Linked DNA regions of Homo sapiens. The protein of the gene in region 1 purifies or fractionates together with the protein of each later gene. This does not show direct contact. Each region holds a gene or a part of one and is shown in the gene's direction. Other genes may lie near its edges.

Region 1 (7,027 bases):
AAAACAGAAGGCCAGGCACGGTGGCTCATGCCTGTAATCCCAGCACTTTGGGAGGCCAAGGCGGGTGGATCACGAGGTCAGGAGATCGAGACCATTCTGGCTAACACGGTGAAACCTCATCTCTACTAAAAATACAAAAACTTAGCCGGGCATGGTGGCAGGCGCCTGTAGTCCCCGCTACTTGGGAGGCTGAGGCAGGAGAATGGCGTGAACCTGGGAGGCGGAGCTTGCAGTGAGCCGAGATCGCACCACTGCACTCCAGCCTGGGTGACAGGGCAAGACTCCGTTTCAAAAACAAACAAACAAAAAACCAGAAAAACACGTGTTCAACGTTTCATAGTTGTCTAATTTCTGTTGAGACTATGGCCAACACACTTTATAATTCTTCCTCAGAGAAAACGTATTGTTTCTACATAGACTCTACTTATTAATAACAATCTTATGTGTGGCATCACTGGCCTGTTTGTATTGTTTTCTTTTTCTTTTCTTTCTTTCTTTTTTTATATACAAAAATCTCCATTCTAAGAACTCAAGTTAGGAAATGCCATAGGATTGGTTATGACTACCGAGAGTAAAAATCCACTGAAATTTTAAAAAACTGAAAAACGTTAAACCTCACAAATAATGAGAAAATAATGCAATAAACCCCCATGTGTACACCCAGCATCAGCAACTGTCAATATTTTGACAGTCATTTTTTATCCTTTCCTCCTTTTTGCTGAGATGTGAAAGTGAAATTCTCTGGTACAAAAATAACATAAATGGCTTAAAAGTCTAGCTATGTTTCTCTGGTGTACAAATTTTCTTTACAGTACATTTTTCTTTCCTTTCCCACAACCATTACCCAAATTCTACTGGTGGTCACTGAAATGCCGCTTATGATGGCCTCAACTAGAAAAATCTCTTTATTTTTCTACCTGCCTCCAAACAAGAAAGAAGTTGGTAACTCATGTCATAGTTCACAAGTCTCTAGGGATTCTACATGTCTGCTTCAAGCCGTCAGTGAACTTTCAGAAAACAAATGCAAATATTTTACATTTGTTTATTATATAAGGGGGTTTCAAAGCTTCTATCAACATTTTCATAGGGGCCTATTACCTACAAAAGGTTAAGAATCTCTGCCTCTATTATGTCTTGAAAGCATATCAAATATACTTTCTCACTTCCACTCCCTAGTTAATTCTATTTATTTATTTACTTATTTTGAGATAGGTTCTCTGTCACCCAGGCTGGAATGCAGTGGTGCAAGCACAGCTCACTGCAACTTCAAGCTTCTGGGCTCAAGTGACCCTCCTGCCTCAACCTCCTGAATGGCTGGGATCATAGGCATGCACCACCACGCCCAGCTAATGTTTTGTATTTCTTTCAGAAATGAGGTTTCACTATGTTGCCCAAGCTGGTCTCAAACTCCTGGCCTCAAGCGATCCTCCCACCTCAGCCTCCCAAACTGCTGGAATAACAGGCATGAGCCACCTCACCTAGTCCTTAGCCAATTTTTTATATCTAAATCAGACATTGGACACCACTTCCAGGATGCCTTCCCTGACAATGTCACCTATAACTGATTTCCCTTATGTTTTCCTACAAAAGTTAAGGTAGGTTACTTTCCTGTTTATCACAGTCTTTCAATCACTGGACGAGTATTTATCAGGTCCTACTATTTGCCAGGCACTATCCTATACTTTAGGTATGCTTTGTCTCCTAATGCACTGTTAGAAGAGGACAAGGAACATCACAGTATCCAATACGTCTTCTGTGTCCGAAGACATATTGTAGTTGTAGCTCCAGTGAATGGAAGCAAGGATGAGCTGCTGCATTTCTGTAGCTGGCATTCAGCTCAAGAATACGTAAAACCAGACTCGTGGTTTTTTCTTTCTTTCTTTCTTTCTTTCTTTTTGAATGTGAGGCCTTTACAGAAAAAGAAAATGTCAGTCTGATTATCCAGGGCATGAGGATAAAGAGAAGCCCAAACAAAGGTTTCCCCCACTCCACCCCACCCAATATACTGTGGCACTAGAAAACGATTCCAGAATCAGAAACTATATGCTGACGTCCATTAGCCCTCTTAGTAGCACCTGAAATAGACCAGCGTCTATGTGAGACCTGTAGTTGTGTCCTCACAAATAACCTGTTATAGACCAGCGTCTATGTGAGACCTGTAGTTGGGTCCCCATAAATAACCTGAACTGGAAACAACAGCTCGACATGAACTCTGCCCCCTACGCTGGGGATCAGGAGCACGAACCTCTATACAAAGGGCGGCAGAGCGGTTACTAAATGTGCTCATTTTTCGTCACTAAGAACGTGCATTTTTAAAGTGCATAGATCCCTGATGATAACGGAGTTGTTTGATAATAGGCGGTTGAAGATACTATTACGTTAGGGACCTGGAAGAAAGTAGTTAACGCTATTGTCATAGAAGCAATGGGGGGAGGAAAGGTTTGTGTCCAGTTTTGGGCAAAAACTTCTAAGTTCCACCCCGCCTTCTGATGGATGCTTTTTTGATGGGGCTCGTTTTGCAAAACTCAGCAGATTAGGCATGTTGTGTAGTGGAATGATTTGGAGCGTCTAAGCCGTGGCACCCTACTTAACCCCCCCATCTCCAGTTATCCCAATGAACCGACCCCGAGGGGGCATTTCCGCTGAAGTCCGGGGCTGTAAAAAATTAAGTGAGAAGAGCCGCGCTAAAGCCAAGCGTCGTCGTCACCCAAGGTACTGCGCTGATGCGCTGCGGGCCGACCAGGTGCTCCCGCCGGGGCGTCTTCTCCTACGCAGGAAGGGCCACGCCGAGAGAGGCAGGCAACAAGGGCACGGCTGGAGGCCGGAAGGTCACCCCGTCCCCGGCGGGGCGGGCGCGGCCCAGCCTCACTTCCCGGGCACGTTCGGGCGGGGCGATTGCAGGGAACGGGGCGGGGAGGCGACAGTCCCCGGCTCCGCCGCGCGCCAGCCCGCCTTCGCTGCCCGGAGGCGCCGCAGGCCTGGGTTCCCGGACAGCTGAGCCCGAGCGCCGCCTCCCGAAAGGTGAAGGCGGCCCGGGGAGGCGGGGACGGTGACGGGGGCGGGGGCCGCGGGCGGTCTCCCGACGGCTGTCGCGGGGCCAGCCCAAAGCCCCCGATCCCCGGTAGCTGCGCTTCCCGCGCGGGGCGCCGGAGTAGGGCGGGCCAAGCTGGCCTGCGGCCGCGGCGGGAAGAAGGGCTAGCGAAGCACCCCCGACCGGGCCCAGGCGCCGGACGCCGGGGGGCGCCTCGCTGCAACTTCTCTTTGGAAGCCCCGACACGAGCCCCGGCCCGCGCGCGCGCTCCCCCACGGCCACGCGCGCACCCTGCCGCCCGCACCCCCGCGCGCCCTCCGTCTATTTTTTCCTCTTCCTTTCATCCTCACACTCTAAAATAGGTCAAGGGGTGGAAGTTACACCTGGTGCAGCCCTCGGCTCTGATGCAAAAGCAGCTTTTGCCCCTGGCTGCGGGACAGCGCTGTGACTACTCGCAACGGGAGAGCTGCTGCCAGTCGCCACACCGTGCGGAAAGCGCCGGCGACCGGAGCACTGACAATGGTCTGCATAGGGGAGCGGAGAGAAGCTTCTGTTGCGCCCTAGATCCGCTGCCTCGGCGCCCGCCCGCAGGGAGGAGGGGGCGCGACAGGTCGTCTAGCGCGTGCCCCGGAGCCCGCGCCCGGGTCTGGCCGCCTGGGTGAGTTCCTGCTCGTCCCCTGCCTTTCCAGTAGCCCGGGGTGGCTGTTTACCTTGCAAACAGCCTTGCAATACGATCAAAACAGGCGAGACAGCCATGCAGTAAGGGATTGCGGGATGTGCTTTGGGTGTGAGATTGGATAAATCAGAATTCAGAGATAAAGGACATGTCTAGTGCCTTAAGGGTTAAAGTGGATTCGTATTTTTTCATGGAGTGCACGTGTATCTTTCCCTGGGGAACTGATTTTTAATTAGTAAGAGGCAAAGAACTAAGATAACTTGAAGCCAGAAAGTTTTCAAAGCTCACGATGAAAATACAGTTTAAGAAGGAATGCCAAAATAGGAAGGTAAGGATTTGTATGATATTACTTGCTATGTGTGGGGTTTTTTTTGTTGTTGTTTGACGGAGTCTCTCTCTGTCACCCAGGCTGGAGTGCAATGGCACGATCTCGGCTCACTGCAACCTCCGCCTCCCGGGTTCAAGCAATTCCCTTGCGTCAGTCTTCTGAGTAGCTGGGATTACAGGCAACCGTCACCATGCCTGGCTAATTTTTGTATTTTTACTAGAGACGGGGTTTCACCATGTTGGTCAGGCTGGTCTGGAACTCCTGACCTCGTGATCCGCCTGCCTCGGCCTCCCAAAGTGCTGGGATTACAGGCGTGAGCCACCGGGCCCGGCTGATTCTTTTTATAGTACTTGGGTTCTTTGTGATAAATGATGTGAGCCCACAATGCTCTATGTAGAAAGAAGATAAGGCTGTAAACGTCTACTTGCAGAGCTTTATGTTAGGTGGTAGGCATGAATTTAAATGTACATTGAAAATTTAGTGTGTAGAAAGAGCTAAAATATATCTATATTGTTTTCAGGTTAAGATTATTGGTAATACAGCTAACCATTGGCATTTCACCCTGTTTCAGCAATTAAAATTGCTATTATTCATGTGACATCAGCAAATGGAAGCCTTTATCTTTCTATTTTTTATTATTTATTTGTTTGTTTGTTTATGTTTGAGATGGAGCCTCACTCTATCGCCTAGGCTGGGGTGCAGTGGTGCGATCTTGGCTCAATACAACTTCCGTCTCCCGAGTTCAACCGATTCTCCTGCCTCAGCCTCCCCAGTAGCTGGGATTACAGGTGCAAACCACCATGCCCAGCTAATTTTTTTGTGTTTTTAGTAGAGAGGGGGATTTCACCTTGTTGGCCAGGCTGGTCTTGAACTCCTGACCTCAAATGATCCACCCACCTTGGAAGCCTTTATCTTTTAGCTAACGAATGGTTAACTTGTTTGAAGTTTGGGGAAGGGAGAGTTAGAACTTTCTCTGTCTTTGATGGCTGGCTGAGAATACAGGGTAAAGAACTGTCCAGTGTTGTGAGTGGTGCCTTAGAGTTGCTCATAGCAAGAAAATCACTTGGGAGGGTGGAAGTGGCTCTCAGATGGTCATTGGTTACCTATAACTTATTTAAAGAAGACCTTGAGAAGTTGGGACATATCTTGTCACTGAGGAAATTGTGCCAAAGAACTGCTGCTTTATTAACGCATTTGATCAGATTTGAAAAGAGAGCTCTGTATACACTCTTTTTCTAACTCCAAAGAAATTTTGTTTCTAGAAAGATTCAATTACCGTAATGATGTTCTTTGGAAATGTGCCTTTTTGCGTGTATATCTTAATATGGATAAAGTTCCAAGGTAGTTCAAAGGTTTTAATAAAATTTTACTTACCAGAGTGATGTGAAATTGGGAATACCCTGTGTGAATGGTTAACTCTACTTTAAATTGGAAGGTCAATGGGAGTGGGGATCTTCCCAGTAAATCTTAAATCTCTGTGTACGTGTATCTCTGACAGCGAAATCTTACTGGAGATTGCAGGGGTTGTAAAGAAGAGACCAGACCTTATAGTATTTCTGATACGCGGATATGTGAATGCTTAAATGCATTTCACTTGTAAAGAATTTATATGCTCCTTTAGAGAACTAGTCTCCAAAATTTGAAACACATTTATGAAGAAGGCTCTATCATTGCTTTGAAGAAGACACAAGCAAGACATATTTGGCACTATACAGGCTCATAATATTGAGAGCAAAATGCAATTAAATGCCTGTTTACTACATGTCACTGTTCTCATTTGTGTTTTTAAACAGGAATTGAGTGAAAGCTCTCATTGCGATTAAGCCCCTGGTATAATGCATTATTGAAATTAGGCTGTCAGCGCTTGTCTGTGCAATCTTATGTTTTTACTCGTAGATAAATTAGGAATTCTTCTGAAAAGAATGGCATGAAAGCATTAAGATAACTGGAGAATTCATTTAAGGACAGACTGAAGAGTGATGCCAAATGGCCATTTAAATGTCCTTCAGCTTTTGTGACTCACTTCTTTTGATGCCATAAAGAAAGTACCTTGCATAGAACTCCTAGCTGAGACATCTTCAAAAAGAGTTAACATCATTCATTTTGGATACTCACTTCTCATCCAGAGAAACTTCTAACCACTCAAAGAAGACATTTTAAGAGTTTGAACTAGATCACCTGGATTAAAAAGCCCAGCTCTGAGCCATTTCCTTGTCTGTGAAATGGAGATAATGACACCTCCCCAGGTGGCTGTGGGGAGCAAATGAATAGGTGTAAATGCTGAGTACACAGTTGGCACATTGTGAGCAGTCATAAAGAGGGGTTTATAATAAGAAGTAGGAGTGTGTTGACTAAATATCATCTCCTGGAGGCTGCAGAGAGGTTGCTGCCTAATAGACTCTAGAACTGAATATTTGGGTCACTGGTTTAATCCCCCATCTGGGTATACTGAATATACTGCTAGTATACTCCTATAGCATAGAGTATAGAATATGCTGTACTCTTAGTAATCAGTGTCCTTTGGGAGCCAGAGGCTGTCACACTTGCATCTTCTCCACCCTAGACAGGCCTTTGACTCAGCTAGGTTAAAGAAGTAACCTGTGGTTGTTTTTAGAGATGATGATGAGGTGGTAGGGGAAGGAGGGCACTTGAGGAGTTTGGTGTATGGTCCTCTTCACACATATGCGTGTTTTTATTCTCTTTGCCTTTCCCCGTTCCCTCCTATCCTCCCTTCTTTTCTCTCTAGGGGTCCCGATCATTATTTCCCAGCCTTTGTTAATATGTCTCGGCATCAACCCTAAGCCGTAAAGGGTTGTTAGTCCTGATTTGGGTAGTCCTGCAAGGTGCAGCCTATGAACTTCTTGTTCTTAAAGGTGTAACTGCGAATGTCAAATAGGCACAACCTTTGCCACTTCCATGGTTCTTCTGGGGTGTTACGTCCCATTTTGCTGTATCGAATGTGCTCATTTCTACCTTCTCTTTCTTCTCTGTT
Region 2 (7,027 bases), on another chromosome or scaffold:
AATGGAACTCCTGATGTCTGGACGCGGGAGTATTCAGACTGCTTTCCGGGCTGATTCACAGAGGGAAAAACATCTGACCACCCAAATCCTAGAGTGAAGTCTCCTCACTCCCACAAAAGAAAATAGGCAAACAGCATAATGTTCCCTCTTAAAATGATGTAGACTGACTGTGTGTACTCAGCAATAGAGGCTCTGTGGCTTCCATATTTTATTTTCTTAAAACCAGAGTTCCTGGCCCTTCACTGAGCAGTCCGCAGTATAGGCCTGGACCTAGAGTTTCTGCCTACTTTAACCCTTAAATAAATGAAAATAAAAGCATTCACTTCATTATCTCAATGCTTATTGGTGGTCAATGAGGGATTATCTCTCTTTTGTCTTATATACTCTTTTTTTTTTTTTTGAGACAGAGTTTTGTTCTTATTGCCCAGGCTGGAGTGCAATGGCGCAATCTTGGCTCACTGAAAACTCTGCCTACCGGGTTCAAGCGATTCTCCTGCCTCAGCCTCCCAAATAGCTGGGATTACAGGCATGCGCCACCACACCCAGCTAATTTTTGTATTTTTAGTAGAGACGGGGTTTTTGCATGTTGATCAGGCTGGTCTCGAACTCCCAACCTCAGGTGATACACCCTCCTTGACCTCCCAAAGTGCTGGGATTACAGGTGTGAGCCACCATGCCCGGCTTATATACTCTTATTTTCAAAAGCCAACAGCAAATCTACAACAAGTTTAATTGCAAATAGATTTCCCCTAAAGGCAAGAGCCTGTGATTGACTCCACAGGAGAAGGGTCAGGAGAGGCTTCATTAAGTGAGACCTTAAGAGATAAACAGGTGATCACCAGACCGACATAGGGAGGGCATTTCAAACAGTACACAGTGAGCTGGCCCAGCCAGGGAATAGCAACAGGAGCACAGAGGGCTTCTGTTTGGCACAACAGGGAGCAAGACTGGAAAGATAAGCAGGGGCTTGACTGTAGAAATCTTATTCATACTGAAAAGCCTGCACTTGATTCTGTAGTGAAAAGCTACTGGTGCTTTATGTCTGGGAGTAACATAAAATAAGATTTGTGTTTGGAATGATCACTCTGGCAACAGTGTAGTGAATGGATCAGAAGGATATAAGCTCTCAGGGACCCCTAACTATAACTTTTAAAATGGTCTGGGTAAGAGATGACAATCTCACATTAAGGTAGCAAGAGTGAACACCAAAGGAACAATCCCTGGAAAAGCAGAATGTACCCGATGACTGAGGGGCTGGGTGGCTGGAGAATGAACATAAGGCAGTGCCTGGGATGACTCTCCAACTTCTGGCTGCAGAAGCTAGGTTCCCTTTACCAGTAGGGAATATAGAAGGAAGAGAACATTTGAGTTGTTGATGCTTAATAGATTGTGACTAACAAAAGCACTACCATCACTCTTTTTTTTCTTTTTTTTGAGACAGTTTCGCTCTTATTGCCCAGGCTGGAGTGCAATGGCGCTATCTCAGTTCACTGCAACCTCCACCTCCCAGGTTCAAGCAATTCTCCTTAACTCAGACTCTCCAGACTCCCCAAGTAGCTGGGATTACAGGCATGCGCCACCACGCCCAGCTAATTTTGTATTTTTAGCAGAGACAGGGTTTCTCCATGTTGGTCAGGCTGGTCTCGAACTCCCGACCTCAGGTGATCGCCCGCCTCAGCTTCCCAGAGTGCTGGGATTACAGGCGTGAGCCACCGTGCCCCGCCCATTACTCTTTCAGTTGAGCCTTCTACCCGCCCCACAGAAGCATTAATCAGATTTATACTTTTCCAGATTACATATCCTGGCTTAAGTCTGTACCCTAATTTACATTAAGAGTTGGAATCCTCACATGGAAAGGCGGGGGTGAAGATAAAAGGAGTGAGACTTAAATGGACATTCAGAGATGTGAGAATGTGGCTTACTTTCTTACTTTGCTTGTGCCATGTCAGTGCTAGAGGAGCAGCCTTGTTTATAGAAAATTCATTTTGCATTTTCTTAATTTAGGGAAACATGTACCACCATTGAAATAACCTCTCAGACTTTTGTTTGTTTGTTTGTTTTACTTTGTGAAAGCGTAGTGGGATTTCTTTCCTTTTTTTTTTTTTTTTTTTTAACCGAAGCAATGTTGGAAGTAAGTGGAATTTCAAAGTAAAGGAACTTTTAAAGCACCATGAAAATTTTAGAGAACATGTGTTCTCTGTTTTTTTCAAGAATGGAAGCAGAACGCTTCAGTTAGACCTTTAAGCATCATTATATTAATTTCAGAAATGGTGTTATTACTGAGATGAAGTGGTATATTTTATTTTTGCGATTTTTTTTAAGTCACATGCTCATATGTATCTGAATTTCTTGGAGTAACATTCTCAAAACAAGTTACATATAATTCTAGGATCAGGAAAGTAATAACTTTTTTTTTTTTTTTTTTTGAGACAGAGTCTCACTCTGTTGCCCAGGCTGGAGTGCAGTGGCGAGTTCCCAGCTCGCTGAAACCTCTGCCTCCCAGGTTCAAGCGACTCTCCTGCCTCAGCCTCCCTAGTAACTGGGATTACAGGCAGACGCCACCACGCCTGGGTAATTTTTGTATTTTTAGTAGAGACGGGGTTTCACCATGTTGGCCAGGCTGGTCTTGAACTCCTGACCTCAGGCGATCCACCCACCTTGCCCTCCCAAAGTGCTGGGATTACAAAAAATTAGCTGGGCGTGGTGGCGGGTGCCTGTAATCCCAGCTACTCGGGAGGCTGAGGCAGGAGAATCGCTTGAACCCAGGAGGCAGGGGTTGCGGTGAGCCGAGATCGTGCCACTGCACTCCAGCCTGGGCAACAAGAGAGAAACTCTGTCTCAAAAAAAAAAAAAAAGATTTTTTTAAAGAAATTCACCAATACATGTTATGTATACGCATGTCCACATACGTGAAGGGCAGGGATAGTATTACCTTCAGTATTATTGAGTGTTTAACAACAAAACCAACTATAGCTATGACTCAGTTTATAACACGTTTACCCTTAATAAGTTTACCTAATTAGAAATGTATATGTTAATAAAAATTTTTACACTTTAAAGAGGATTTTTAAAGAATGAAATCCTGACTCATTTGTTGTCTCAAGTGACTACAGATACCCCTTGAATTAAGATGGGGTTATGTCCTGAGAAACTCATCCTAAGTTGAAAATACCATAAAATGAAAATTCACTTAACACACCTACTCTACTGAACTTAATAGCTTAAGTAGCTTAGCCTCTCTTGCCTTAAACATGCTTAGAAGACTTAAATTAGCCAACAGTTGCGCAAAATCATCTGGCAGCACAGTACCCTGTAGCGTATTGGTTGTTTACCCTGATCTGTGGCTGATCGTGTGGCTGACTAGGATGGTGTGGCTGACTGGGAGCTGCGGCTTGCTGCCGCTGCGCAGCATCGTGAGAGAGGATCACCTGGCGTATTGCTAGCTCGGGAAAAAATCAAAATTCAAAATTTGAAGTAGGGTTTCTACTGAACACATATCACTTTCTCATCGTTGTAAAGTTGAAATATCGGAAGTTGAACCCTCATAAGCCAGGGACTGTCTGTGAATTGAAATTAGCCTAAAAGACAGCAGTAGTATCATATTTCAAAAAAGAAAATGTTATTTTGCATATACTGCCTTTACTCTGTAAAGTGTTTCAGACAGATTTTTTTAAAATATAATTTGTGATCTAAGTCCAATTCCTTGTTCTTAAACTAAATGTCCAGCTTTTGGTCTATTTTCTTTTTTCTTCCACATTCCTACTCTCTGTTATCATTTTTCGGATATTTATATGGTTTGAGTGGCAGGCAAGTTAAAAATCGCAATTTAAAATAATTTTTGTGTGCTTTTCAAAGTGAAGCTAAGTTGGATTTTTTTAAATAAGACTTTTTTCCGATTACAAAAGGAAATTTGTTGTGGAGATTTGGATATTTCTTTTTTTTTTTTTTTAAATGAGGCCTTGAGATTTGGAAATTTCTAAGTAGAATTTTGACACAGAATTCAAAATGACTGAAGAAATCTGCTGGATACCTAATGAGTCTCTTTAGAGTTGGGTGGATAAATTAGTCAATGGAAAACTTTATTGCTGTCAATATGGGGTATATTTGAGAACAGTAAAGGAATTAGTACAATAATGGGGTTGATTTGGCAATTCGTGTTTTAGCTACTGTGATGGTCATTAATTTAGAGATAATATAGGATAGTGGTTAAAAGTATGGATTTTGTGGCTTGGACCTGGACCTGGATTCAGTTCCTTACCCAGTACTCAGTAGTCATGTGACGTTGCACAAGTGATCACTTCATGCTTGAGTTTTTTTGTTTTTTTTTGAGACAGAGTCTCACAGTGTCACCTGGACTGGAGTGCAATGGCACGATCTCAGCTCACTGCAACCTCCACCTCCTGAGTTCACACAATTCTCCTGCCTCAGCCTCCTGAGTAGCTGGGATTACAGGCGCATACCACCACACCCAGCTAATTTTTTGTATTTTTAGTAGAGACGAGGTTTCCCCATGTTGGCCAGGCTGGTCTCGAACTCCTGACCTCAAGTGATCTGCCCACCTCTGTCTCCCAAAGTGCTAGGATTATAGATGTGAGCCATCATGCTTGAGTTTTTCTCTCCTCTTAACTGGGAATATTAACGGTAACTACTTCAGAGGTTAGGAGGATTAAATGAGATACTTAATGTAAAGCACCCTATAAATGGTAGCTATTTATATTAGTAGTTATTCATGAAGCAGTAGCTGAAGCCACAGCAGTTTAAGCCGGATTCTTCAATACATTGCCATTTTATTTTATATTTCTATTTTTATATCTATCTTTATAGAGTAGTCTGAACAAGTTATTTATCAGACTAAAGATGAACATTAGTAGTAGCTTAAACTCAAGTTTTAGCATTGTCCTTTCTTGGACCTCTATAAATAAGAAAATAATTGATTAAAAATCCACAAGTTATCAGTTATCCAGGAATATGCATTTTTGTTTCTTTCGTTTTTTTTTTTTTTTTGAGATGGAGTCTCGCTCTTGTCACCCAGGCTGGAACACAGTGGCGCAATCTTGGTTCACTACAACCCCTGCCTCCCCAGTTCAAGCGATTCTCCTGCCTCAGCCTCCCAAATAGCTGGGATTACAGGCACCCACCACCATTTCTGGCTAATTTCTGTATTTTTAGTAGAGACAGGTTTTCACCATGTTGGCCAGGCTAGTCTTGAACTCCTTGAACCTGCCTCGGCCTCCCAAAGTGCTGGGATTACAAGCGTGAGCCACTGCACCCAGCCAAAATATGTGCTTTTCTATTAACCTTCTTTTAGGGATAAGGAGTCTGACATTGAGAGGTGATGCACAGATGATCAGTTGAATGCAATAAAATATACATCTGGCCTGATTAGTTACTTTCCGCTAGGAATTATTTACTCCAAGTGTTAAAAATGTATTCTCTCATTTAATTTTTACAACAACCTTTTGAGCCTAGGTACAACTATTACCCCCAATTTACAAATAAACTGACATTTGGCCAGGCGCGGTGGCTCACACTTGTAATCCCAGCACTTTGGGAGGCTGAGGCGGGTGGATCACCTGAGGTCAGGAGTTCAAGACTAGCCTGGCCAACATGGTGTACTAAAAATACAAAAAAAAAAAAAAAGATTAGCTGGGCGTGGTGGCAGGTGCCTGTAATCCCAACTACTTGGGAGACTGAGGCAGGAGAATCACTTGAACCTGGGAGACAGAGGTTGCAGTGAGCCGAGATTGCACCACCGCACTCACTCCAGCCTGGGCGACAAGAGTGAAACTCCATCTCAAAAATTAAAAAAAGTAAAATAAGCTGACATTCAAGGGTGTAATAACCGGTAGAGGCAGGATTCAAACTCAGACTACCAATGGTTCAACCCATACACAACACTCCTGTCCCAGAATTCTAGAGTGTAAGTCCAACAATAGGCCTGCGTGTAATAAGAGGAGTCTTCTTCCCAGTCTCTGATGACATATTTGCAGAAGTTTTATACACAATTGAACACAGCATTGGCAGCTTAAGTACAGTCAGCATGCAGATAAGGCCAAAAGCATCCCAGCTGGGACATGCTTGGTGATTGCCATCTTTTTTTTTTTTTTTTTGAGACGGAGTCTCGCTCTTGTCCAGGCTGGAGTGCAGCTGCGCGATTTCGGCTCACTGCAACCTCCGCCTCCTGGGTTCAAACAATTCTCCTGCCTTAGGCTCCTGAGTAGCTGGGATTACAGGTGCCCGCCACCATGCCCGGCTAATTTTTGTACTTTAGTAAAGAAGGGGTTTCATCATGTTGGCCTAGGCTTGTCTTGAACTCTTGACCTCAGGTGATCTGTCCACCTTGGCCTCCCAAAGTGCTGGGATTACAGGCGTGAGCCACCAAGCCTGGCCAGTGATTGCCATCTTTTAAAGTGGAGACTGAGTTTTTTGTCCACATGTTTTCTTTTTCCTCTTTTCACTCACTTTTATAAAGTAAATGAAAATATTTACATAATCGTGCATATACTACCAAACAGCAAAAATAGTACACTGCTGAAACTGACCTGGCTGGCAAGTGACACCTCTATATGCTAAATTTAGCTTTCTGAAGCAGATGTACAAAAGCAATAAGAAAAGCAGTTTTGTTTTGTTTTTGTTTTGAGACAGAGTTTCGTTCTGTTGCCCAGTCTGGAGTGCAGTGGCGCAGTCTCGGCTCACTGCAACCTCTGCCTCCCAGGTTCAAGTGATTCTCCTGCCTCAGCCTCCTGAGTAGCTGGGACTATAAATGTGCACCACCATGCCCGGCTAATTTTTGTATTTTTAGTGCAGACAGGGTTTTGCCATGTTGGCCAGGCTGGTCTTGAACTCTTGGGCTCAAGCGATCACCCGCCTCAGCCTCTGAAAGTACTGGGATTACAGGCATGAGCCACCGCACTTAGCCTGAAAAGCAGTTTGTGATAGCAGTAATGTTCACGATTATGGATTGTTTGAAATAGTAGCTACAGGTAATCATTATTCTTTTAGCCAAGCATTCTCATGCCCTTCTTTG

Evidence for each region. The genes of interacting proteins can lie anywhere in the genome.
Region 2: the proteins of TRMT9B (region 1) and RUFY3 purify together in Homo sapiens (affinity purification with mass spectrometry; 3 studies listed by BioGRID and IntAct, with this or other methods). This does not show direct contact.

Annotation. Positions count from the first base shown.
Region 1 is NC_000008.11:12,948,670-12,955,696, forward strand, and holds part of TRMT9B (probable tRNA methyltransferase 9B), read left to right. Parts: intron 1-7,027. UniProt on the Homo sapiens protein: May modify wobble uridines in specific arginine and glutamic acid tRNAs. Acts as a tumor suppressor by promoting the expression of LIN9.
Region 2 is NC_000004.12:70,724,948-70,731,974, forward strand, and holds part of RUFY3 (protein RUFY3), read left to right. Parts: intron 1-7,027. UniProt on the Homo sapiens protein: ARL8 effector that promotes the coupling of endolysosomes to dynein-dynactin for retrograde transport along microtubules. Acts by binding both GTP-bound ARL8 and dynein-dynactin.